Linked DNA regions of Homo sapiens. The protein of the gene in region 6 interacts with the protein of the main gene of each other region in a pairwise test. Each region holds a gene or a part of one and is shown on either strand. Other genes may lie near its edges. The genes, in order: LRSAM1, MYOC, IRX6, GJB5, TRIM63, MYL2 and ZNF529.

What was found.
Region 1: the proteins of MYL2 (region 6) and LRSAM1 interact in a two-hybrid assay, tested with the Homo sapiens proteins (one large-scale study listed by IntAct).
Region 2: the proteins of MYL2 (region 6) and MYOC interact in binary tests that used the Homo sapiens proteins (3 or more experiments, as listed by UniProt).
Region 3: the proteins of MYL2 (region 6) and IRX6 interact in binary tests that used the Homo sapiens proteins (3 or more experiments, as listed by UniProt).
Region 4: the proteins of MYL2 (region 6) and GJB5 interact in a two-hybrid assay, tested with the Homo sapiens proteins (one large-scale study listed by BioGRID and IntAct).
Region 5: the proteins of MYL2 (region 6) and TRIM63 interact in a two-hybrid assay, tested with the Homo sapiens proteins (one study listed by BioGRID).
Region 7: the proteins of MYL2 (region 6) and ZNF529 interact in a two-hybrid assay, tested with the Homo sapiens proteins (one large-scale study listed by BioGRID and IntAct).

What each region holds. Positions count from the first base shown.
Region 1 is NC_000009.12:127,454,510-127,458,009, reverse strand, and holds part of LRSAM1 (E3 ubiquitin-protein ligase LRSAM1), read right to left. Parts: 5' UTR 3,483-3,500; coding exon 3,411-3,482; intron 3,013-3,410; coding exon 2,956-3,012; intron 2,435-2,955; coding exon 2,390-2,434; intron 695-2,389; coding exon 617-694; intron 1-616.
Region 2 is NC_000001.11:171,639,189-171,642,688, reverse strand, and holds part of MYOC (myocilin precursor), read left to right. Parts: intron 1-3,500. UniProt on the Homo sapiens protein: Secreted glycoprotein regulating the activation of different signaling pathways in adjacent cells to control different processes including cell adhesion, cell-matrix adhesion, cytoskeleton organization and cell migration.
Region 3 is NC_000016.10:55,323,023-55,327,002, forward strand, and holds the start of IRX6 (iroquois-class homeodomain protein IRX-6), read left to right. Parts: upstream 1-1,180; 5' UTR 1,181-2,069; coding exon 2,070-2,114; intron 2,115-3,313; coding exon 3,314-3,571; intron 3,572-3,980. UniProt on the Homo sapiens protein: Transcription factor. Binds to the iroquois binding site (IBS) motif of target genes to regulate gene expression; functions as a transcriptional activator or repressor. Modulates expression of RCVRN, VSX1, BHLHE22/BHLHB5 and TACR3/Nk3r.
Region 4 is NC_000001.11:34,753,684-34,757,846, forward strand, and holds the start of GJB5 (gap junction beta-5 protein), read left to right. Parts: upstream 1-1,363; 5' UTR 1,364-1,512; intron 1,513-3,623; 5' UTR 3,624-3,647; coding exon 3,648-4,163. UniProt on the Homo sapiens protein: One gap junction consists of a cluster of closely packed pairs of transmembrane channels, the connexons, through which materials of low MW diffuse from one cell to a neighboring cell.
Region 5 is NC_000001.11:26,050,801-26,054,215, reverse strand, and holds the end of TRIM63 (E3 ubiquitin-protein ligase TRIM63), read left to right. Parts: intron 1-251; coding exon 252-323; intron 324-2,332; coding exon 2,333-2,343; 3' UTR 2,344-2,915; downstream 2,916-3,415. UniProt on the Homo sapiens protein: E3 ubiquitin ligase. Mediates the ubiquitination and subsequent proteasomal degradation of CKM, GMEB1 and HIBADH.
Region 6 is NC_000012.12:110,910,580-110,914,079, reverse strand, and holds the end of MYL2 (myosin regulatory light chain 2, ventricular/cardiac muscle isoform), read left to right. Parts: intron 1-755; coding exon 756-834; intron 835-935; coding exon 936-984; intron 985-2,904; coding exon 2,905-3,003; 3' UTR 3,004-3,235; downstream 3,236-3,500. UniProt on the Homo sapiens protein: Contractile protein that plays a role in heart development and function.
Region 7 is NC_000019.10:36,570,493-36,574,644, forward strand, and holds the start of ZNF529 (zinc finger protein 529), read right to left. Parts: upstream 2,801-4,152; 5' UTR 2,648-2,800; exon of another isoform or gene 2,551-2,647; intron 1,901-2,550; 5' UTR 1,855-1,900; coding exon 1,841-1,854; intron 1-1,840. UniProt on the Homo sapiens protein: May be involved in transcriptional regulation.

The DNA.
Region 1 (3,500 bases), on a different chromosome or scaffold from region 6:
TTCAACCAAACTCAGGTGCAAAATATTAAAAAAAAAAAAAAGAAAGAAAGCATCTGTAGTGAACACATACAGGCTTTTCTCTTGTCATTATTCCCTAAACAATATAGTATAACAGATTGGGCCTGTGCTGCTGGGCTGACACCTGTGCTGCCGGCCTCCTCTGAAGGTGCATATCACTCTCCCAAGCTCAGGTCTGCGCATAACAACCCTGGGCTCACACCTCCCACATGTTGTGAATGCCTCCCAGCCCATCCGGGGAGGAGCTCACAGTCAGCAGGGAGTCCTTCCAGATCACCTGCGCGTCCCTCCTCTTCCTTCTTGCCTGGGACCATCAGTCTCCTCGCCCTCTGCTAGCTGACTCGCCATGAGGCTGTCACTTGGCTTTCCTCCTGGCATGTAAACTCCCCAGGGACAGGGCCTGTGGCTGGTCATCTTTGTCACCCTAACCCACACACAGCCCACAGAAGTATCCAGTAAACCATACTGATCAAATCCCAGACTGACTGGTAGATTGGGCCCCTCTGACATGCAAGAGGCAGCCCAAAAGGAGCAGGCGCTCAGCTGCCGCGTGGAACCCCATGCAGAGCCCCAGCTGCCTGGGAGGAGGGCCCAGTACCTTGATGGTTGCCAGACTCAGGAGGCTGCAGGATTTGGGAAGCAGGGAAGTGAGGTGATTCGTGTGGACGATCAGCACCTGTGTGGAGAGATGTGCGGCCATGCTGGGCTGAGGAAGAGCAGCAGGCAGGGCAGGCTAAGGGCGTGGGAGCCAGCCCAGCGCCGTGCCACGCCCCACCATCTTGCTCTCCCAGACACCACCACGGGGATGCGGGTCAGTATCATGAACTCTCCCAATGGGGAATCTAATGCCCTTCCTTAAAACCTGGATCTTCAAGGGTGAAAGAGACCTTAGAGGTCTACATCTTCCTTCCATCTGAGAAGGGATCCCCCTGCAGCCATCCTGATCATAACCTTCCCAGCACCAGCGTCTTCACGTGGAAAATAGAGAATAATAAAGTGCTTGCCTCCCAGGGCTGCCATGATGTTAAATAAAAGCTCATGCGCAAAACTTCCAGGGCTGGCAGAGGGGCCAGGGCTCAGTCCAGGTCATCTACTGCTATTTTTCCTTTTCTTTTTTTTTTTTTTTGAGACCAACTCTTGCTCTGTCGCCCAAGCTGGAGTGCAGTGGTGTGATCTCAGCTCACTGCAACCTCCGCCTCCCAGGTTCAAGCAATTCTCCTGTCTCGCCCTCCCGAGTAGCTGGGACTACAGGCGCATGCCACCACACCCAGCTGATTTTTTTTTTATTTTTGGTAGAGACCGGGTTTCACCATGGTAGCCAGGATGGTCTTGATCTCCTGACCTCGTGATCTGCCCACCTCGGCCTCCCGAAGTGCTGGGATTACAGGCATGAGCCACCGCACCCGGCCAATCTACTGCATTTTTCTTAGGCATTGACTGCGGCCCAACACTTCCAGCACAGACTGGGCGTGGTGGCTCACACCTGTAATCCCAGCACTTTGGCAGGCTAAGGCAGGTGGATCACTTGAGGTCAGGAGTTCGAGACCAGCCTGGCCAACATGGCAAAACCTCATCTCTAAAAATACAAAAATTAGTTGGGCATGGTGGTGGGCGCCTATAATCCCAGCTACTCAGGAGGCTGAGGCAGGAGAATTGCTTGAACCCAGGAGGCGGAGGTTTCAGTGAGCTGAGATTGCACCACTGCACTCCAGCCTGGGTGACAGAGCAGAGCGTCCGTCTTCAAAAAAAAAAAAAAACAAACAAAACTTCCAGCGCCAAGGAGCTCACTACTCTGTTGGCAGGGAACACTTTTTTTTTTTTTTTTTTTTGCATATTCTCATTTAGATACTTCACTTAGAGCGCTTCTACCCATCTGCATTCAAAGCTGCAATGCTCTGCTGAAAAATCATTCACTCCCCTCTGAATCTCCCCTGGGTGACCAGAATAAAAGGCGTGAGTTTCTATTATTACTAACACCGGGGTTCATAAGCCTTTACTACGTGGTAGGCATGTACACTCAGTATATTTCTATCTCTATCTAGCTATCTACCACTCATTTAATTCTCACAATACCTCAGGAAGGAGAACTATGAATGTCTTCATTTCACAGGGGAAGAAACTGAGAAGTAAGAGTTTAAGGAAGTTGCCCAAGTCATGAAGCCAGTGAGGGCAGAGTTAGAATGTGACACAGGAAGGTCCAACCCCAAAGCCTACTCTCCTATCTGTGAAAACACCTGCTGCAGGCCAAGAGCATAAGAAGCAGAGAGAAAGGAGGTGTCTACGCCGGGAAGACAGCTCCTCAAAGTCCCTTGTGGGTTCAAACAAGCAGACATGCAACAAGAAAGTCTCTGAAGATGAAGCTCCATCTTACCTTCTTCTGCAGAACTTTGCATGTTGCAAAAGCTCCAAATGGAATCTAAGATAAGATAAAGAAGAGTAAGTGTCTCCCCTCCTGCCAGTTTTTAGCTTGTTCTCTGAGTGGCATTCACGTGAGGAAGAGACAGGCAGGAGGTGAACAAGGGCAAAACGCCACAGCAGGTGGCAGTGCTGAGCCCAGGGGCAAGGCTGGCAAGCAGTGGTGTTGGGGATGTGGCCAGCCCTTCCCTCGGTCAGCTGGCAGGAGACTGCCCTGCCCCACCCACCCTGTCCCCATTGTGAACCCCTTCAGGGGCTGGAGAATGCCAGGCCCTTCCAGCAATGTAGGAGTCTATGGGTACATTTTCTACCTAGACTCCTTGACTCTTGGAGACTACGTTATATTGAGGCCAAAGGATCATCTTCAATTATTTTGGACGAGAACAAAATCTAAGGAAACATCTCGTGACTAGAGCTTCTGGCCTTTCTAAAGCCCCAGTCCACCTCTGTCTTTCCTAGGGACACAAGATCCAAGAAAACGGGACAGATCCAATTCACAGCCCAACACTATCCTCAGTTTACCTCTGAGAGCTCACATTTAGAGATGTCGAGAATGTCATCTGCCCCAGCTTCTTTTGCCTAAGGATAAAAAGAATTTTTAAAAAGTATTAAGACAAAACACCTTTGCAGAGTGGACAAGCCAGGCAAAGAACATAAATGTAAGCAGCTGCAAAGGACCATAGACACTATCTGGTTCCACTGGTCCATTTGGCAGGTGAACCAATGACCCCTGCTTTCCCAGAGCTTGAGGCCCAGAGGGATGAGGAACTGAAAAGCAATGACAGTGCGCTCAGTCTACAGGGGAGAAGCACCCTTGGCAGGGGGCCTCATCTGTTGGGTCTAAGTCAAATATTTCTTCTGTGGGTGGGGGAGGCAGATGGGAAGGAGCACGGCTTGTTGGGGGCAGTGCGGAGGCCTACTCCATGGGGACCGAGGAGGAGATGGGATAGAGTTAGAGGAAACCCACTTTCCCTCACCAAACACATCTGGTACTCCAGGCGTTTCCGAGCCTCCTCACTGGGTTTCCGCTTCCGGAAGAAGAGCGGCATCCTTCCCTTTTCCCAGAG
Region 2 (3,500 bases), on a different chromosome or scaffold from region 6:
GCACATTGAGGATGTCCTCAGTTACATATACATTTTGGCTTATGAGTCTTTCTTTTTTTAATTTTTTTTTTTTTTAAGACAGGGTCTCACTCTGTCACCCAGACTGGAGTGCAGTGGCATGATCATGGCTCACTGCAGCCTTGCCCTCTTGGACTCAAGAGTCATCTTCCTGCCTCAGCCTCCCGAGTAGCTGAGACCACAGACTGCACCACCACACCCAGCTAACTCTTTAATTTTTTGTAAAGATGGGGTCTCGCTATGTTGCCCAGCCTGGTCCCAAACTCTTGGCCTCATGCAATCCTGCCACCTCGGCCTCCCAAAGTGCTGGGTTTACAGGCATGAGCCACTGCGCCTGGCCAGCTTATGGGTTTTAACTACTTACATGGTGCACTCTAGACTGAGGGATATCCCAGGGATGGAGGACCCACCCACCTCCAGGGCATTAACACTTTTAGGGAGGCTAACAACTGCAGCCACACAGAGGCAGGGGTGGAGAGGAGAGAAGGGTAGCTGGGATCAGGGGCAGGCAGCTGCAGCAGCTACTGAGCTGGCTCACTGTGGGCAGCATGGCTGTCTGGCCCAGCCTGCACCTGAGAGCTAGCTGAATGTTTTCTTCACCTCCTTCCAGGGAGAAATTTTTTCCAGTACTATAATTTGTTGAAGCTGAACCCCAGCAACTCAAACAAGGTACCCTGACTCTGGAGATGTGAAAATGTAAAATAATGTGTGGCTTTGATGAAATGTGGTAGAACCAGAGGATTAAGACTTCTGTGGTGATCCTCTCTGCCTGAAATCTAAATTTAGGAGAGCTGAGCAAACAAATGATCAAAGGCAGAACATGTCTTCCCGACCCTCTCGGCTGTGTAGGCGCTCCGGCCTCAGGGGATGCACTGACTTTCCTCCCACTGTCCTGAACACCTGAGAATCCTGAGCGGGGAACAAGTTGCTCAAAGGGCAGAGAAGTGACTCAGAGGTTCAGCAAGAGAAAAGCCCAGTGTATTAAGCATGTCTTTTTATTCTGATGCTTTGCTGTCTGGGCCTTGCAAACGTGAGAGGGACTGCCCCTCCCAGGGGTAGCCAGTTCCTACGGTTAGCAAAGGACTCACCTGGGAGGACAGCTTTCATATGCAAACCAACCAATCCAGAGCCCACACCCTGTGACCACCTCCATCTGGCTCAAACTCAAGGCCACTGTCCCCCTGACCTAATCACCCAGGGCCTGGTACCAGACAATTAGAGATAACTCCTGTGACCCCAGATCCTGCTGAAATTATTCAAACTCCCCAATCCTAAACCTGCTTACCCTGCCTCCCCTTTCTTTCCTTCCCATGGAAAGAATAAAGGCGCTTTCCCACATTTTCCCCTGGTGCCCTCTTCTGGAGCAACCCTGGTGCTTCCCCAGGTGGCCTCCTGGGCTTAGTGTGCCCCCTTCCTCTTGGGCTCTGTGAGTACAACAACTTGTAAAGATAATTTTTTTTTAGAGCAGTTTTATGTTCACAGCCAAATTGAGAGAAAAGTACAAACAGTTCCCAGATACTACTGGCCCCCACACATGCACAGCCTCCCCGATTATCATCATCTCCCGCCACAGCAGTTGTTACAACTGATGAACCTGCATCAGCACGCACAACACCCAAGGTCCACGGTTTAAATTAGGGTTCATTTTTGGTGTTGCGCCTTCTATGGGTTTAGACAAATGCATAGTGACATGTGTCCACCATTATAGTATCATACACAGTATTCATTGCCCTAAAAATCGTCTGTGCCTCACCTAGTCATCCCTTCCTCACCCAACAACTGCTGATCTTTTTACTGTCTCCATAATTTTGCTTTAACTTGCTTTTCAGTGACAATTGCCTCCTGGGATGTTGGCCTTGCCACACCTGAATAATCATCAAACCTGCATTTTATTTGTTTTTATGTGTATGTGATGGGTTTTTTGGGAGGTTGGAGGGGAGGACAGGGTCTCACTCTACGCCAGGGCTGGAGTGCAGAGGTACGATCACTGCTCACCACAGCCTTGACCTCCCGGTCTCAAGTGATCCTCCCACCTCAGCCTCCCAAGTAGCTGGGACTGCAGGTACACATCACCACCCAGGCTAACTTTTTGTAGTTTTTGTAGAGATGGGATTTCACCATGTTGCCCAGGTTTGTCTTGAACTCCTGGGCTCCAGTGATCTGTCTACCTTGGCTTCCCAAAGTGCTGGGATTACAGGTATGAGCCACTGGGCCTGGCCAAACTGCATTTTAAAATAGCCAAGCCTGTTCCTTGTGACTATTGCCTCATCCTTGTATTCAAGACTGCTGTAAGATCATAATCCTAAGCAAGAGTAGAGACATGTAGCACACCATGATCACTTACTGTCTAACCAATGCTGCCCACCCGCTTCCCTTCTGTATGGCTCACCACCCCCACCCCAAACTCCTATAGGAACTCTGCACACACTCCCTCTCCATTATGCAAAACTGGTCTCAGAAAGGAATCAGACAGAATATTTCTACTGAAAGTATAAAGCTTAATATGTTACTTCTTACAAGAATATTTGCATATAACAAGGGAAAAAACCTTAAGTCATGCAGTAAACTTTTATCTTTTTTTTTTTTTTAACAGGAGTCTCCCTATGTTGCCCAAGCTGGTCTTGAACACCTGGGCTCAAGTACTCCTCCTGTCTTGGCCTCCCAAAGTGCTGGGATTACAGACATGAGCCACACTTCTTTTTTTTTTTTTTTTTTTTTTTTTTTCTTGAGACAGAGTCTTGCTCTGTTGCCCAGACTGGAGTACAGTTGCACAATCCCGGCTCCCTGCAACCTTTGCCTCCTGGGTTCAAGTGATCCTCAACCTCCTGAGTATCTGGAACTACAGGCATGTGCCACCACACCCTGCTAATTCTTGTATTTCTAGTAAAGATGGAATTTCACCACGCTGGCCAGGCTAGTCTTGAACTCCTGGCCTTAAGTGATCCGCCTGCCTCGGCCTCCCAAAGTGCTGGGATTTCAGTGTGAGCCACTGTGCCCGGTCTCTTTTTTTTTTTTTTTGAGACCTTGAGACCGGGCCTTGCTCTGTTACCCAAGCTGGAGTGCAGTGGCAGGATCATAGCTCACTGCAGCCTTGAACTTCTGGGCTCAAGCAATCCTCCCACATCAGCCTCCCAAGTACCTAGGACTGCAGATGCTTACCACCATGCCCAGCTAATTTTTCATGAATTTTTAATTATTGAAATTCAGACATCTAAGAAGATGCTGAGGACTGTCTCCATATTCCTGAAATTACGACTCACCTATTCACAAACCAGCCCTTCTAGTGGAATTAAAATATTATTTGATTTTGAATACCCTACTCTAAGGTAGGCACATTGCCCTGCAATTTATTATTTATGAGGTTTTTAATTATGGAATTGTTCAAATATTCACAAAAGTAGAGAGACTACAATGAACTCCAATGTAGCCATCACTCAGGCCCAACTGTTATCAGCACAGTCCAATCATGTTTTATCTTCCCT
Region 3 (3,980 bases), on a different chromosome or scaffold from region 6:
CAGTGTAAGGTGCTAGTGGCAAACTTGGAGTTGAGGTACGCCCCGTCCAGGACCCCAGACCTTGCCCCGCCTCATACAAGAACCCAGAGCCGTTGCTATCTTCTGGGCCACAGGCTCTCGCGTTTCAACTAGAAAATAAAACTGGGCCCTTGAACCAACCCCTATGGCTCCTTGGAGGAGTTGCAGCAAGAGCCTGGTGCAACTTTAAAAGTATAAAGCGCTTTTAAAAGTATAAAGCGCGGTGACCCCGGTAAGTGAAAGGCAAGGCTTTCTGAGGTTTCTGGCCTGCAAATCCCACTGGATTCCTGCAGTGCCCACCGAAGACCTTCCCCTACCAGACCGACAGTCCCTTTTCACCCCTAGACGTCGCGGGTTGGAGGCTCTCAGAAGGGCAGCTGGGGCCAGAGTACTGAGCCTTCAGATGTGCAGTCTACCGTGCTCGCAAATTGGAGGTTCCATGTCTCGGGGCCAGGCCTAGAGGAGGCAGCCCCTTCCTGGGTACCAACGAGCCTCCCCCACCCCTGCCGCCGCCCACCCATCAGTGCCCCTTTGAAGACCCCTGGGATGGAGTGAGGGGGTGGTCAGACCGCTGGGCCCAGCCGGGCGTCCAGGAGGAGCGCAGGGAATGGGCCGCCCTCCCGGAGCGCTCCACTGCGGCTCTCCAGCGCCACCCCCAGCGGAGCGCAGGGGCTGCAGCCCGGACCGGGAGCCTTCTTCAGGCTCCCTGGCTGCCCCGCGGCCACTGCGGGAGGCGCGCGCGCGAGGCAGCCAAGCCTTGCCTTCGGAGGAGATGCCCAGGGATCTTAGCAAGCAGCCTGCGGCTGCCAGGGATCGGACCTGGCGAGTTTCCCGACGGAATCTGAGGGATCCCGAACCTCGGCCTCGAGGGGGCGCTATCCGGCCTACTCGAGGACCAGGCAGCTGCAGAGAAGCTCCAAGGTCAAGGCCCTGGGCCAGGCCAGGGCTTGGAGAGCCGGAATCTAGCCCGAGTCCTGGGGAGGCTGAGGCGGGGAACCAGATCCCCGAGGACAAAGATGGGCGGGCCAGTGGGATCCACCGACGCTGCCCGGAGCTGCTCCAACGAGAGCCGGGCCTGTGGCGTGAACAAACTTTACTTCAGCGCAGGGGCGGAGGAACCGGGCTGGAGGCTTCTCCCCCGGGCCTCTGCTCTCCTCCACCTGCCAGTGCTCAGCCTCCGCCCAGCCTTCGCCCACCCCAGCTCCCTCCCCCTCCCCCACGCGCCTCTGTTCACTCAGACTCCTGTCTCCCCTCTCCCCTCCTCCTTCTCCCTCTTGCCTTTCTCCCCCACTTTTCTCCTGTCTCTTCTTTTGTATTCTCTCCTCCCTCGCCGCCCCGGTTGCCTCTCGCCTCCTCCGGGCCGCAGGGGAGGAGGTGAGCGCGCTGCGCCCGGGGCCTGCGCGGCTCAGAGGGAGGCGTTTCTCCTACTTCTCCCGGGTAATTTGGAGAGGTTGTGTGTGTGTGCGCGCGCGCGTGAGCTCCAGGCGAAAAGGGGTAGGATTCAGCGCCGAGCAGAGAGGGTCAGGGTTTTTGACGTTCCTCGCCAGCTGCACAAACCTCCCGGAGCAAGTGTGAGTGTGGGTGAGAGTGCGCGCGCGCGCACGGGCTGGCTGCGCTTGGCACGCTTGGTGGCCCAGGGTCCCGGGGCCCGGGGTCCCGTCTGGCGGCCCGGGATTACCGTGACGTCACATTGAGCCTCTGGCCACCTTGGACTGGGACACCTCCGGAGCCTCACAGCCCCGCGCCGCGCCGCGCCTCACCTCGCCACCACGCGCCTTTGGGAACCCGCATCTTCTTCCTTCCCCTGCCCATCCATGGGCCCTTCTGTCTTCCGGACCCCACGGGCCGGAGGGGCGCCTTCCGGAGCGCAGGGCTCGGCAGCCGGGCTGCCCTCGGCTCTGCCTCCACTGGGGCCAACCAGGCGAAGGAACCGGCGCTGGGCATCCGCAGCGGTGTAAGGAACTGAGACACCTCACTGCTGGGGGCGCGGAACAGCTGGGCTGAGACGGGAACTCGACAGGGAAGAGAGAGACGGGCCAGGGACAGCCACCATGTCCTTCCCACACTTTGGACACCCGTACCGCGGCGCTTCCCAGGTAAGAGGCGCCTCTATGGGGGATAGGGGACAGACTGGGTGGAGGGAGTGCCTAGTGCACGGCGCCTGCCTCTGATCATCCTCCTCTTGTGTTCTGGGGGAAGCCAGAAGGAGCAAGGACCAGGGTAATGTGTCACAGCCTCCTCTGACATCCCCAGTCCCTAAATGAGAACGTTTCACCCCGGAGTGCACGCTGGAAAATCTTGTGACCTGAAACATGAGCACTCTGACCACGCGCTCAGTGAGGTGGGTGGGATCACAGGGATCTCCCAGTCAGGCCTCCTCCTATACAGAAGTCTGAGGTGGCCGGGAGAGAAAGAAAGAAAGAAAAGAAAGAAAGAAATAAGGAAGGAAGGAAGGAAGGAAGGAAGGAAGGAAGGAAGGAAGGAAGGAAGGAGAGAGAGAGAGAGAGAGAGAGAGAGAGAGAAAGAAAGAGAAAGAAAGAAAGAAGGAAAGAAAGAAAGAAAAAGAAAGAGAAAGAAAGAACTTGTAGGCTACAACGCTGTCCATCTCACCATATTGTTGTTGATTTGTTGACCTCGGCTATTCTCCTACCCCTTCCTTGGGCGGGCCCAAGCTCTCCGGTTCCCTCGATTTTCCAAACCAAAGTGGATGTTGTGCAATGACAAGGGTTTCCTGGGAAAGTTCTGCGGACACCCCCTCCACTGTTCTCCAGCTTTTCTCTAGAGTTCTGAGTGTATTTTCCTGTTGTCTAGTGCCGGCTCGACCTTTGACCTGCTGTGTGATCTTAGACAAGTCTCACACTCTCTCTGATTATCCACTCCCAATCTATAGAATGGGAGCAGGAATGAGACGTTAATAATGGTCTCTAAGGCCACCTTCTAGCTCCGCCTTTGCAGGATCCTGGGAGGAGGGTAGGGAAGGGAGCAGAGGGTTTGGTGTCTTTAATTCCGGTTTCAAAATGTTCACATTTTCCCGGCCTCCTGGGGCTCTGGGGCCTTAGCAATGGAGTAGGAGCATCTATAAGGGCAGTTTGGTTAATTTATAATTCCCGTCCCAGCACCTAACAGAATGCTCAGCCCAGGTGGCATTTAGTTAATGCATAATGAAGGAATGAATGAAGGAGCAATCTGATTATCTGATTTTCTCTTCTTTGTTTCTAGCTCCCTTCAGCGGGAGCGGGGGCGGGGGTGGGGGGGGGGTCTCTGACCTCCAGTGCCCTCTTTCTTGCCCCTATAGTTTCTGGCGTCGGCAAGTTCCAGCACCACATGCTGCGAATCTACCCAACGCTCTGTCTCAGATGTGGCATCAGGCTCCACCCCAGCGCCCGCTCTCTGCTGCGCACCCTACGATAGTCGACTGCTGGGCAGTGCGCGACCGGAGCTGGGCGCCGCCTTGGGCATCTATGGAGCACCCTATGCGGCCGCTGCAGCTGCCCAGAGCTACCCTGGCTACCTGCCCTATAGCCCAGAGCCCCCCTCACTGTATGGGGCACTGGTGAGTACAGGGGTGGAGTCCCAGGGGAGTGAGCAGTAGAGACAGGTGAAATCCAGAGAAAGTCAAGGAAAGACCCACACCTCCCGAGGAAAGGAAATGGTTAGGACTGTGTATAAGGAGGACAAAAAAATACAGTACCTTACAGTTTGCAGAACTTCATACTGTTTAGAAAACATTTATACTTCTATTAATTCTGTGAGGTAGGCAAGTAATCATTAATCTCAATTTAAGAATGAGGAAATAGAGGTGCACAGGAGTTCAAATACTTTGCCCAATGTCACAGAGATACAAAGGGTCAGAGAAAAGCTCCTGAAGAAGATTAAAGCAGGAAGTGCCCCAGCTGGTGTGTGTTGTGGGGCAGGGGGCGGGGGGTGGGGGGCAGTAAGGGGGGAAAGGAGGGAGGGACAAG
Region 4 (4,163 bases), on a different chromosome or scaffold from region 6:
CAGGTCCTTCATGGTCTGGAAGGTCTTTGCTGACCTTCCAGGCTCCTTGCCATGTGGTGTCCCCACCACTACCCAGCCCACTCTCCAATGCTCTTCCATTATTTTTCACAAAGGTCCTCTGCACGCTATGTGCCCACTGCCTCAAAGGCCCCTCCTCAGCATCTCTTCTTGGTAAACTCCTATACATCCTTCAAGACCCAGCTTAAATGTTACCTTCTCCGGCTCTCCCTCTGGCAGAACTTAAAACTCCCTTCTCTCTCTGTGTCTTTTCTAGGACTTCTCACAATGTTGTAACTGATCTCTTTATATGCCTCCTCTCTCCTGTACTTGGCAACAGCTTTTTGGAAAGAGCATGGAGTATAGAAATGTGTGACTCTCTGCAGGGTGTGTGCATTTCACACATCATTCATTCAATAAATATAAATTGAAGCCTAACTGGACAAGACACCAGGCACCATACTAGGCACAAGGGATAGAGCAGTGAATAAAATAAAGCCACTGCTGCATGTGTGTGCAACACTGTGCCCATAATTGTGGCCTGTGTGTAAGAGTATGCTCATGTGAAGCTACATTGTGTTTGCTTGTGGACATGAGGTGTTTGTGGCTCCTGGATGCTTTGTCTGTTGAATCCTGACCCCAAGTGACCTGCTGATACAGGGCACCTTGGAAGTCAATTAGGCCAAAAGACCGTGTCTGTGCACTAATGAGAAGCTTTCCCCAGGTGCCCCTGCCCACCTTCTCCACCTCTCCTGTGGTTCCTGCCTGGCTTGGGTTTGGCCTTTTTAACCCAAAGACAACATGCATCCAAATGAGATTTTCTCTAGTGCATACGTCTCTCTCTCCCTCCCTTCTCCTCTGCCTTCCCTGTATCTCAGAAAGAAAAGGCCTAGGAATAAGGAAAAGGAGGAGGAAGAAACATTTTTTTGAGGACATACCATGCGGCAGGCCTGTGCTGGGCAGTATACACGCATTATAGGCAATTGTAGACAGGGCTTCCCTTGTGTCAGGCACTGTTCTAAGCACTTCACCCCTAAGGCTGGGTTAATCCACGTATCCACCCTATGAGGTAGGTGTTGTTCTTTTCCCACTTTCACAGAGAAGGCAAGAAATCACACAGTGAGAAAGTGGCAGAGCTGGGATTCAGGCCTCAGCTTCTCCCACACAAGCCCACAGATGGGAGGATGAACAAGGAGTCAGAGTGGACCTGTGGCTCTCCCCTGAGAGGATACCAGGATTCGAGGCTCAGCGCCCTGGGAGGAGTGAACCCCTCAGTTTCCTGAGCCTCATCAGAAGCAGTCTGGGGAGGCTGGGGCCCAGCCAATGGCAGTGCAGGTCCCAGCTCCTCCTCCTCCCAGGCTGGGCCAGCACACCCGGCAGGCTCTGTCCTGGAAACAGGCTTCAACGGGCTTCCCCGAAAACCTTCCCCGCTTCTGGATATGAAATTCAAGCTGCTTGCTGAGTCCTATTGCCGGCTGCTGGGAGCCAGGAGAGCCCTGAGGAGTAGTCACTCAGGTAAGGGCATCTGTGTCCGCATGTGCCCTGCCCCTTGGCATACGTGGCAGGAGGACACTTCTCTGCTGGGGAGTGGTGGGATGTGGCCTGGACACATCTGCCACCCTGGGTCCTGATGGTGGAGGAATAAGGGGCTCTGGGTTCTTTCAGGTCTCCCCAGCCGGGCAAAGGTAGGAGCAGGGGCCAGGCCGGAAGCTCAGCAGGCAGGGTAGCTCTGCCTGGGCCTGCAAAGCCCTGCCCCACTCCTCCCCAAGTAGGGATGGGCTGGGTGAGAGCCCCTGGGGCTAAGGGCGGGGCCTTCCTGGGTGTTCCCTGAGAAGCTGCAGGAGTCCTACCTTAGACAGGACTGAGCATGCAAGATGGTGATTCAAAACAGAGCTCCCCCCAACCCCGGCCCCCACCTCCACCCATCCCCCGTCCAAGTGGCGCAGGTGGTGTGGAGACAGGGTGGTGGGCAAAGGTTCCCCCAGCCACCCTCATCCAGGATCCACACACAAGGGGAAGGACAGAATCCGTCTGCACACAAACAGGCAGGCAGCTCATTGAAACTTGAGGAAAGGGTCTGAGGCCTAAGGCTGGGCAGTTCCCGGAGGGTGGGCTCTAGAGCCAGCCTGCCTGGGTTCAAATCCTAGCTCTGCCACTTATTAGCTGTGTGACGTTGAGCAAGTTAATTAATCCCTCTGTGTTCCTCTTTCCTCATCTGTAAATTGGGAATAAAAAATATGCCCTTTCCTAAGGTTGCTGTGAAGGAATAATGTACTGATTCATACAAAGAACTTAGAGCGGTGCCTGGCACGGCATGAATGCTTCATGGATATTGGCTGTTATCACTACTCTGCTTTGCAGTTGATCATGCAGAGGCTCCAGAGAGCCTGGTGAGCTTCAGCCTGGACCAGCATGGGAAGGCCATCATGAGCCCTTTAGTGGCTAGGCAGACAGGTTCCTTGGGGTCCCAGGGTGCACAGTTGGTTGAAACCACAGTGCATGGGTCTTAATGGACACACCCCCATCTCCAGGAATCAGGCAGAGGACTCGCGGGTGAGGAAGTGGGGACCCCTTACTCTGCCTAGCAGTCACAGTCCTTACGCGGAGGTGAATCTGATTCTGTGAGTTCATCAGGCCAAATTCACCAGCAGAACTGACAGGAGCAGCATTTCCCACTTGATGTCTTGACAAGGCTGTTCCACAAGATGATAAATGTTATGTCAGGAGGAAAAGGGCTTCTGTGGGCAAATGAGTTTGGGCAATGCCACATATTTCATACCTCTTTTGGTGAATTTATTAGTGAGTTTATTAGCACGGTTGAGCAAAAGAACCCTATTTAACTTTACTAAACCCAATGTTTGCCAACTTTTCTTGACACAGAATCCTCTTCTCTCACTTCTCCTATTGCCAACCTATGGGACAGGGTTCCAGGGAACACTGTTTGGGAAACACTGGAATACCAGGTTACTCTAGGAAACCTACTGTATGAAGAGAATTTATTGCTGCCTGCTTTAGCTTTCAGCTGGATTGCATTGAGTGGCACTTGAGCAGGACTCTGCCTGGCTAATTACAGAGTGTTAGACCAGATGGGGGCTTGGGGACAAGGTTCCAGCCTCCTTTCCAGTCCCATCCCTGAGCCAAGAAAAGGACAAAGAGCAGGTTCCCCTGGGGAAGGGGCTGTCTGAGAAGAGGCAGCAGTGCTCAGAAAGGAGAGAACCATCTCAAGGCTCAGCCCCCCTGAGGAGGAGGGCCAGGGTTGAAACAGAGGGAGCAGGCAGAATGTCCCAGCTCCACCAGTCTTCACTCTGCAGAACCTCAAGACCAGAGCCTCAGGCCCGGGGAGGAATGAGTGGCTCCCTGGACCTGCCCTTATCCACTGGTATTGGTAAGAGCTGGGTTCTGGACTTAATTACCTATGCTCAAATCCCAGCCCTGCACCTAATAGTTGTGTAACCTTGTATATAATGCCACTAAACCTCAGCTCCCTCCCTCTACAAAATGGGGACAGTAGTAGAACCCAGCTCCTCTAGTGATGGTAAGGATGAAATGTGATGACATATTTCTACAAAGTGCTCAGAGCAAGTCTGTGATAAATGTAGGAAATGATTGTTCTTGTTTCCCTGCAGTAGCAGCTGACGCGTGGGTCCACCATGAACTGGAGTATCTTTGAGGGACTCCTGAGTGGGGTCAACAAGTACTCCACAGCCTTTGGGCGCATCTGGCTGTCTCTGGTCTTCATCTTCCGCGTGCTGGTGTACCTGGTGACGGCCGAGCGTGTGTGGAGTGATGACCACAAGGACTTCGACTGCAATACTCGCCAGCCCGGCTGCTCCAACGTCTGCTTTGATGAGTTCTTCCCTGTGTCCCATGTGCGCCTCTGGGCCCTGCAGCTTATCCTGGTGACATGCCCCTCACTGCTCGTGGTCATGCACGTGGCCTACCGGGAGGTTCAGGAGAAGAGGCACCGAGAAGCCCATGGGGAGAACAGTGGGCGCCTCTACCTGAACCCCGGCAAGAAGCGGGGTGGGCTCTGGTGGACATATGTCTGCAGCCTAGTGTTCAAGGCGAGCGTGGACATCGCCTTTCTCTATGTGTTCCACTCATTCTACCCCAAATATATCCTCCCTCCTGTGGTCAAGTGCCACGCAGATCCATGTCCCAATATA
Region 5 (3,415 bases), on a different chromosome or scaffold from region 6:
TTGCTGGAGCAAGGAAGTGACTTGAGCCCAGCTCCCTGGGACGGAGTGCGGGGGATTGCAGGAGCAGGGCCTCTGTGCAGCGTGGGTCTGGCAAGCCCATCCCCTCCCAGACCACTGCCGCCGCTGTGTGGCCGTTTGACCCGACTGGGCACAGGAAGGGGTTTAGACCGTGCTCTCTCTTGCCTGGTTCCTCTTCAAGTAGCTCCTCAAGGAACCGGCCCCATCCTAACACAAATGTTTTTTTGTCACAGATGAGGAAGAGGAAGAATTCATTGAAGAAGAAGATCAGGAAGAGGAAGAGTCCACAGAAGGGAAGGAAGAAGGTAAGAAATTCATCTACCTCCATTCCTTCGTTCCTTCATTCATTCCACAACAATCTGAGGTGCCTACTGTATGTGAAGCACTGTGTTAGACATTGGCAATGACGCTCAGAACTGTCCCCAGCACGTGCTTTAACCCTACTGAGGGTAAAGTCCTGTTCTCTTTACCCTTAGAAAAGAAAAAAACCCCAAACTATTCATAATAAAATGCTCCCATTTCACATCTAAATGATCTTCTTAAATGGAAAGCAATATGGCACAGCAGAGGGAAAAGACAGGGGCTCATGAGCTAGGCTGGGCCCATTGAGGTGTTTTGTTTGGCCAGCACTGTGTTTAAATTAAAACAAACAAACAAACAAACAAAACTACTTGCTGGACAGGCACGGTGGCTCGAGCCTGTAATCCCAGCACTTGGGGAGGCCAAGGCCAGCCTGGCCAACATGGTGAAACCCTGTCTCTACTAAACATACAAAAAATTAGCTGAATTTGGTGGCAGGCGCCTGTAGTACCAGCTACTTAGGAGGCTGAGGCAGGAGAATCGCTTGAACCTGGGAGGTGGAGGTTGCAGTGAGCCGAGATCGTGCCACTGCACTCCAGCCTGGGTGACAAGAGTGAGACTCCATCTCAAAAAATAAATAAATAAATACTTGCTGGCTGGGTGTGGTGGTACGTGCCTATAATCCCAGCACTTTGGGAGGCTGAGGCGGGAGGATTGCTTGAGACCTGGAGTTTGGGACCAGCCTGGTCAACAGCAAGTCCTCGTCTTTACAAAAATAATTTAAAAATTAGCCAGGCATGGTGGTACATATCTGTAGTCCTAGCTACTCGGAAGGCTGAGGCTGGAGGATTGCTTGAGCCCAAGAGGTAGAGGCTGCAGTGAGCTATGATTGCGCCACTGCACTCTTGCCTTGGCAACAGAGGACACTACACTGTCTCTTAAAAGAAAAAATTAATTGCTAACATTTTTAAAATTAGGTTTTTTTTAAGGGTTAAGAAAAAGGAGATTTGAACTAAGAATCTGCATTTTCACCTTGTGAAAGTTTAGAAAAAGCAAACAATGCTGGACTTGAACTTCCTTGTAGTCCCAGAGTGCTGGCTCTGGGCAGTGGCTCTCCCCTTTAAAGGGGACACGCTGGCATGGTGGCTCACGCCTGTAATCCTAGCACTTTGGGAGGCCGAGGCAGGCGGATCACCTGAGGTCAGGAGTTTGACACCATCCTGGCCAACATGGTGAAACCCCGTCTCTACTAAAAATACAAAAATTAGCCAGGCGTGGTGACGGGCACCTGTAATCCCAGCTACTTGGGAGGCTGAGGCAGGAGAATCGCTAGAACCCCAGGGGGGCGGAGCTTGCAGTGAGCCGAGATCACGCCACTTCACTCCAGCCTGGGCAAAAGAGTGAAACTCCATCTCAAAAAAAAACAAAGAAAAGAAAAGAAAAATGGGACATGCCCTTGCCAGTTTGCCCAGCCCCACCACCACCAGTCCCGCTTGCTTCACTCATTCATGTTATCTGCTGGCTCCTTGTAGGCATCTGAGTTTGCCAGCCTGGCAGAGTTTGATTAGGAGCCTGGGTTCTGAATCACAGCAGCTCACAATTTCTCTGAGTCTTGGGCTACTCATCTGTGTATGGGGGTCTAACAGTACTGACGTCAAAAGGTTGTAGTGGGAAGTGAATAAGATAATCGTTTAGCACGGTGTCTGATGCATAGGAAGGACGTTTGCTAATTAGCACATGCTTGCAAATGTTATTTTTCAAACCACAGGTACTGAAACTAAATTCCAATCCAGTTGAAAACTATAGGTAGTCTTTTGGAGTTTTGTACTGATGTACAATCCATAATATTTGGGCAGCTAAATTCTATTTTGGTTTTAAAAGGAAGAGACCGGGAGGAATTGGAGTTTGATGTTTTATTCAAACTCCTGTTTGAATAAACAGTAGCTTGGTAAGCCTTGGATCCTCCTGAGTCCCTGTCTCACCCCTTGCCTCTGTATCTTTTTCTTCATTTCAGGACACCAGTAAGGAGCTGGATGAATGAGAGGCCCCCAGATGCAGAGAGACTGGAGAGGGTGGGGAGGGGCCCAGCGGCCTTGGTGACAGGCCCAGGGTGGGAGGGGTCGGGGCCCCTGGAGGGGCAATGGGGAGGTGATGTCTTCTCTCTGCTCAGAGAGCAGGGACTAGGGTAGGACCCTCACCGCTGCGTCCAGCAGACACTGAACCAGAATTGGAAACGTGCTTGAAACAATCACACAGGACACTTTTCTACATTGGTGCAAAATGGAATATTTTGTACATTTTTAAAATGTGATTTTTGTATATACTTGTATATGTATGCCAATTTGGTGCTTTTTGTAAAGGAACTTTTGTATAATAATGCCTGGTCGTTGGGTGACCTGCGATTGTCAGAAAGAGGGGAAGGAAGCCAGGTTGATACAGCTGCCCACTTCCTTTCCTGAGCAGGAGGATGGGGTAGCACTCACAGGGACGATGTGCTGTATTTCAGTGCCTATCCCAGACATACGGGGTGGTAACTGAGTTTGTGTTATATGTTGTTTTAATAAATGCACAATGCTCTCTTCCTGTTCTTCAAAGGAGCCGGGGTTTCATTCAGCCTTTTTTTCCTGGAGATGAGGGTTGAGTGTGAATGAACAGGACCCCTGGTAGGAGGCAATGGCAGGGCTAGGCTTAGGTCCCAGTAAAGGAGTTCTCGACACCACCATTTCCCAATGTGGACTCCATGGAAAGCCAGCCCTGAGCTGGTCCTTCAAGAACAGGTTCAATGTGTTGTTGCTCTGGTTCTCCAGAAAACAGAGCCTGAGGCAAAATTTAAATGCTTTAGTTGCAGGTTATAGGGACTTCCCCGTGCTCACTGAAGGCTCACTGAAGGCTCACTGAAAATCATCAAGAAGAGGCAGATTAAGGCTGGGCAGGTGCAGTGGTTCATGCCTGTAATCCCAGCACTTTGGGAGGACAAGGAGGGCAGATCATCTGAGGTCAGGAGTTCCAGACCAGCCCGACCAACATGGTGAAGCCCCGTCTCTACTAAAAATACAAAATTAGTTGGGCGTGGTGGCGCATGCCTGCAATCCTAGCT
Region 6 (3,500 bases):
AAAATAATGAAAACAGCAACTTGGCTGGGCGCAGTGGCTGATGCCTGTAATCCCCAGCACTTTCAGAGGCCGAGGCGGGCAGATCACTTGAGGTCAGGAGTTCAAGACCAACCTGGCCAACATGGTGAAACCCCATCTGTACTAAAAACACACAAAAAAATTAGCCAGGCATGGTGGTGTGCACCTGTAGTCCCAGGTACTCAGGAGGCTGAGGCGGGAGAATCCCTTGAACCGGGATGTCAGAGGTTGCAGTGAGCTGACATTGTGCCACTGCACTCCGGCCTTGGTAACAAGGTGAGACTCTGTCTCAAAACAAAACAAAACAAAACAAAAACACAGCAACTAACATTGCTCCAAGACTTAACCTAAGTCAGACCTCATGCTAACCACTTTATATGCATTACCCCACTTAATAGCAACTAGGAGGTATGCTCTATTCTTATCACCAGTTTACAGATGGGGAACTGAGACTAAGAGACAGAAAGTCCCTTGTCTGAGGCCACATGGCTAGCAAGTGCCAGGGTTAAGATTTGAATCCCAGGCTTTCAAATCTAGATGATGTTTGACCTTGGGTTCTCAGCCCTCTCTTCGAAATACAGAGGCTCAGTGATCAGACGAAAGCAGGGTCTTTTTCCTCCATGCAAAGCAGCCTTGCTCTGGCCCCTTCATCTCTGGGGGAACTTGGGCCCTGCTGCCTGGGGTGCCAGTGGTTCCCAGCCACCCCCAGTACATGTAAGCCCTGTGTTCCGTTTCAGGAGCGGACCCTGAGGAAACCATTCTCAACGCATTCAAAGTGTTTGACCCTGAAGGCAAAGGGGTGCTGAAGGCTGATTAGTGAGTGGGGTCTGTGGGGGAGGAAGGGGGTTCCCTGCTTGCCCCCTGTCCCCCCTACACACACACAACTGACACCAACACCTGCTTTCCTTTCTCTGCAGCGTTCGGGAAATGCTGACCACGCAGGCGGAGAGGTTTTCCAAGGAGGAGGTAATGGGGTCCTTCAAGCACTCCCTCTAACCCAGCTCCTGGGTTCTCCTTCTGGGGGGCTCCGTCTCCCCTCTCGTCTAAAGCACCCCTGACCCCACACTGACAGAGAACCAGCTATCGTCTTCTGAGGCCTGGCCTCATTTCATTCTCTGCCACCCTATGAGGTAGGGACTGGCATAACTGCCATTTTACAGATAGGCAAACTGAGACCCAGGGAAGTAAAGTCACTCATCTAAAATAACAATAATCACACCTGTAATCCCAGCACTTTGGGAGGCCAAGGCAGGAGGATCACTTGAGACCAGGAGTTTGAGACCAGCCTAGCCAACATGAGGAAACCCTGTCTCTACTAAAAATACAAAAATTAGCTGGGCATGGTGGTGGACGCCTGTATTCCCAGCCACTCAGGAGGCTGACGCATGGCACGAGAATCGCTTGAACCCGGGAGGCAGAGGTTGCAATGAGCCAAGATCATGCCACTGCACTCCAGTCTGGGCAACAGAGCAAGACTCTGTCTCAAAAATAAAATAAAATAACAACACTAATAGTAAATGCCAGGACCTAGATTCAAACCTAGGTCTGCGTGACTGCAGGTTCTGCCTTGCTCACGATGCATAGAGACCTGCTTAGAGCATGACATTATTATGGCGTGAAGGGCCGCCACATACTGTCATGTGAGTTGTGCACTGAACAATTCTTCTAAATGTCAGTTTCATAAAAGTCATCAGACTGTGTATTTGTTGCAACAGCTTTCCAGAACTGGCAGTAAAGTGTCTGGTAATAATTTTTTTTTTTTTCAACTCAGGTGGTGCGGTAGTGAGTTTGGTAGAAGGGGCACTTTTGCTAATTTGCCAAAGCTTCTGTATGAGCAAGCAATGGTGCCGTCAACCTTATTAGTGAACCTTAATGAGTCGATTTTAAATGCTCCCCTCATAGCCTCACAGGCCTGTTTCCATCAAGTTCCACATTTTACTAAAAATTGTATGTAGATTTTCCCTCCCCCAAAATTCAAGCAGCTAAAAGGGCTGCCTTCACTTTCCACCTGCTGTGTGCTTTGAACAAGCTCCTTAACCTCACTGCACCTCAATTTCCTCATCTGTAAAGTGGGAATAATAATAGAAGCTACCTCATAGGAGATTGCGAGGATTCGACATGTTAATGTGGGGAAAGTGTGAACTTGTGGCAAGGGCAATATAAGTGCTAGCTATGAATAGCCAGTATGTTTTAAAAAAATAATAATAATAACTAGCCAATGCTTTTTAAATGGGGAAATTTTGTGTAAAAACAAAAATCTAGATTTCTGACACCCTGGACCCTGTGGTCACTTCATGTCACCTTTTTAGATGGCCACGTGTCTCCATTTAGCCATAGGACCTATCCTGCTCCCTTGCATAACCTGCCTGGCCCCTCGGAACCCTTGAGTTTGTGATCCCAGTGGAAGGCTGGGTTTCCAGGGACATCTCTGCATGATGTTTACTTGGGAGGGCCCTTGGGGTCAGGGAAGGAAGAACAGGGAAGGGCAAGAAAGGAAGAACAGGGAAGGGCAAGGAAGGAAAAGTGCATGAAGGAAGAAGTTGAGCCAAGATTTAGGCCCAAAGATCGGCACTGCTGACTACCCAGGGAGGGAGCTTATTCTACAGCTCTCCTGAGAGGTACCAAGTTGGGCGAGATGGCCGTGCCTTTATACCCCCACACCAATCCCATCCGCTGGCTGTGGGCTGCCCCAGAAAGGGCATGACCTTGGGCGAGGGGGCCCTGCAGCAGCTGGGGAAGTCCTTCCCCGGAGGACCCTCTGAGTGGCCCATGTTCCCATCCCCCACCCCCCAGCTATCCGTCCACTCAGGCCCCGCCCACAGCCCCCCACCCTCCGTCTCAGTTCCCCTCCCCTCGTCCTTAGCACGTGTTGCTGGCTCATTGCAGGTTGACCAGATGTTCGCCGCCTTCCCCCCTGACGTGACTGGCAACTTGGACTACAAGAACCTGGTGCACATCATCACCCACGGAGAAGAGAAGGACTAGGAGGGGGCTCGCTGCTGCGCCCTGGGCTCGTCTTTGCAGAGTGGTCCCTGCCCTCATCTCTCTCCCCCGAGTACCGCCTCTGTCCCTACCTTGTCTGTTAGCCATGTGGCTGCCCCATTTATCCACCTCCATCTTCTTTGCAGCCTGGGTGGCTATGGGTACTTCGTGGCCGCACATCCTACAGTTGGAAATCCATCCAGAGGCCATGTTCCAATAAACAGGAGGTCGTGTATTTGGTCACGACATTTCTCTGACAAACAGTGCCTTGTGTAAGGAAGGCAAAGGCAGATGAGCTAGTGACAGCCTTGCAGTCATTATTATTGAATCTTGGTGACTCTTTATTTAAGGTAGACCTTTGCAGCCACTCAGAACTGTTTCTATCAAGGATCACGTTTTCCTGGAATGTTACCTGGATGACCAAAGCCCTCTCTTCCAAAGAGCTCAAGCATTTAGAGGGCCTTGCTTCCATGACATCTGTCCCTTGGGATGCCATCGGA
Region 7 (4,152 bases), on a different chromosome or scaffold from region 6:
CTGGGAGAATTAGGTGCTGCCTGTGCAACTGCACTGGAAGCTTGCACCTGGTTTCTCCCGGTATTTGCCCTATGCAACTTTTCCCTTTGCTGATTTTAATGTGTACCTTTTCATTGTAATGAAGAATAACTATGAGCATAACAGCTTTTCTGAGTTCTGTGAGTCCTTCTCGCAAATCATTGAACCTAAGACAGTCAAATTGCCTTAATAGAACATTTGCAAATCTGGCTTTTAAAAAATTCATTTCAAGTGCCCATCAAAATTAACTTTATATTTTCATTGCTCTTGATTTACAGAAAATGTATGGGGAATACTAAGAATCTTCACAAACCAGCTTTTTTTCTTCCCTTGCAGATAAGGACTTAAAGTGCCAGGCCTTTATTAAATTCTCTAGGTTTATGTCCATATTAATGTATCCAGGCCTCATAAAGACCCTAAAGCACTGATATAATTATTGTTTACATTCTACAACAAGAAACTGTAAAGCGGAAAAATGAGTAACTATTAACCCCTTTGAAATGCAGTGTGAACATATAACTGAATTTTAAATTTTTTTCACTTTTCCTAAGCTAATTAACACAGGATTACCTTTAATTTTAATTAACTTACATTTAAATACAAAAGCAATATAAATGTTTTTCTATTAAACACAACTTTATTGTTTTGGTAGGACTATAATTCACCCTAAACACTGAAAATTTAGCATCCAAATTGAGACATGCAATAACAATAAAACATATACCAGATTTTGAAAACTTGGTATAAAGATATGAGTGTAAAGTATTTCAGTGTATTCATATCATTACATGTTGAAATAATATTTTGGATATATTGGTTTAAATAAAATACATTACCAAAATTAACTTCAGCTGTTTCTTTTTCTTTTTAAAATGTGTTTAAAGCCGGGCGCAGTGGCTCACGCCTGTAATCCCAGCACTTTGGGAGGATGAGGTGGGTGGATCACCTGAGGTCAGGAGTTCGATACCAGCCCAGCCAACATGATGAAACCCCTTCTCTACTAAAAATTCAAAAATTAGCCGGGCATGGTGGCGGGCGCCTGTAATCCCAGCTACTTGGGAGGCTGAGGCAGGAGACTCACTTGAACCTGGGAGGCAGAGGTTGCAGTGAACTGAGATCGCACCATTGCGCTCCAGCCTGGGCAATAACAGTGAAACTCTGTCTCAAAAAAAAAAAAAAAAGTGTCTAATGGAAATTTTTAAATTACCTAAGTGGCTTTATATTATATTTGCATTAGACTGTGCTGCTTTAGACTCAGACACCACTGTATCAGGCTGCCTCTCACAATCTACACCAATGTCACACTGCCAAATCTCAAAGAAGATTTGGTTGTCACCACTTAAATCCCCTCATGAATGTTCTGGAAAAACTCCCTGCCCTTGTTGACATAGCCTCTCTGCATAAAACTCCTATCATATTCCCACTCCTAAATGTCTCCAAAGCCAACTTTGTCACTTACTGATTAATACCTACCATCTCCTATCTTGCTTTGTTTGCAAATCAAGTCTGTAAATAAGATCAAAGGTATCTAGTGTGCCATTCTACTTAATCACTCGTCTCCTCCTTAACAAATTACATTCTAAAAAAAAGTTTTAACTTCTCCTCCAGGAGTTGTATTTCTATACCATAAAAATCCTTTGGAAAAAAAGAAGCACATGGGAGAATTGAATGATTTACCTAATGCATATGTGAATATTCAATGAAAGGGAAATGGGCATTTGGAAAGGCAATGGAGGACAAGGGGACCCATCTCTACGGTCCTGTTGTTAATTGGGAAGAGAAAACCAAGGGACCAGGTAAATGAACAAAAAAAAAAACTAACCTTGAGTTGGCCATTAGTACCAATGCTGTCTTCCACTTCAGGGGGCCTTCACTTGCAGAACTACATAACCAAGAGGGAGAAAGGACTCATGACATCCTGGACTGGTTAAATAAGAACACAGTGTTCACCACCAGAAAAGCCCATCACACACAACAAACACACCCAGATCGAAGAGGGAAACTAGAATACTGTCGACTCCTCCCCACATCCGAGAAAAAGGTACGACCAATGCCTAGCAGTTTCTAGGGAACACAGCTCAGGAAATACTGTAGTTCTTTAATGTATAAATGGCCTCCAAACTCATGCAAGGGGAGTTATCCCAGGAATGAATACTACACCTATGCCCTCCCCTTCACGTCTTCCCAGGAAACTTCATTTATCTATCTTATCTATCTATCTATCTATCTATCTATTATCTATCATTTATCTATCTTCTATATATCATCTATGTAATCTATCTATATGCGTGTGTGTGTGTGTATAAGACCTCACGAAGAGATTCCATCACAGACATCACAGAGTCGGAAAAATGACGCTTTACCCAAAACAAACTCCTACAGGCTCACGGAAAAAAACGAACAAACAAACAAACAAAAAAAAACAAAAAAACACTTCTACCCCGTTCACACTTATAGTTGGTCACAACAGTGCTGTCACACGATCACGTCACCGTAGACCAGGGTCACACGATAGACCCCGCCCCTACTCACCGTCCTGAGTCCGATCAAACAGCACCCACGGCACACACTAGGGTCTCCGTCTCTCACACACACACACCACAATGACGTCGTAAACAATAGCACTAACCACCATCGTCCGCAGCTCCCGCGTACAGAGGCCTCAGGCTCCCGGCTCCACGTGGACCGACCTCGCCCGGCAGCGCGGGGCCACCTCACCGCGAGCTCCTCCCGCAGCCCGGCCCGGGTCACCTCGACTCGCCAGGCTTAACTCAATAACCACAACACCGGAAAAGGAAGCAAAGGTCGAAGTTCATCCGCGGCCCTGAGGCCTGTGGGAAACGTAGTCCAACAACGAAAGAGCCCTGAAGCTCAAGCGGAGCCCGCTGGCCGCAGGGGCCGCACCACGCCCCAGACCCTGGAGTTTCCGGGTGCGCAGACCCTTGCCATCAGCAGAGGCTGCCGCTGCGCGTCCCCTAGGCGCGGAAGAGGCGGCTGGTGGTCCCTGACGGCAAGGTGAAGTCGAGGCAGTAATCGGGAACCCAGGTTGGGAGGACAGAATGGGGAACAGGAAGCTGGGGCGAGGGTGGTCTTGGGGGAGGTGGGGGGCCGCGGAATTCTAGGTGGCCCCTGCCTCACCTCTGGAAAGAACCGGAAGCCCGGGCCGGGGAGGGTGAAGGGAGTCGCGGACCCGGCTGCTCAGCCGAGGAGGAAACCCGGACCCCAGGCTGAGGGAGGCCGAAGAAGGAACTGGAGGGCCGGGCTGGGAAGGCCTGAAGCGGGTACAGCCTTTAGGCTGGGGAGGGTCGAGGGGAGAACTCGGAGCCTGAGTCGGGCGAGGTTTTGCTCCACTCTGGCTTCTAAGTGTGGGGGCCTCAGGATGTGACCCGTGGTCGTAAACCTGAGGGTGACTTGGAGTTTTTGTCCGTTTTGCACCATGAGAAAGGCCCCAGATGGAATCTGGCAGGTAGCGGCGGTTCAGTGTGTGTGTGTCTGCCTTAGGGCGTGTTTTACACTGTTGACGAAAAGACTCAGACTCTAAAGTATTTGAAGAGACTTATTCTGAGCTAAATATGAGTGACCAATGGCCGGTGGCCCAGCCCTCAGGAGATCTTGAGAACCTGTGCCCAGGGTGGACGGGATATATGTGGTTTTATACCTTTTAGGGAAACATGAGACACCAATCAAATACATGTAAAATGTACATTGATTCCCTCCGGAAAGGCGGGACAGCTGGAAGGTGGCTGGCCTTCCAGGTCATAGGTAGATTCAAAGATTATTTGATTGGCAATGGGTTGAAAGAGTTATTGACGTAAGACTTAGGAATGTCTCCAGGTAGCACGCTTCACAGAGAATAGATTGTAAATGTTTCTTTTCAGACTTGGGGTCTTTTCTATCAGTAATTCCAAAATGGAGGAGGGTATAATGAAGCATGTCCGACCCGCCCACCCCCGCCTTTCCATCATGGCTTTACTAGTTTTTCAGGTTAGGAATGCCCTGGCCAAGAGGAGGGGTCCATTCAAGATGGTCTGGGTGTGCTTAGGATTTTATTTTTGGTTTACAACACCAGCACCACCGGAGTTTGCTGGTGTCCTTTCCAGTCAGTTTCAAAGCAGAGACAGCCATAGTTCTGAT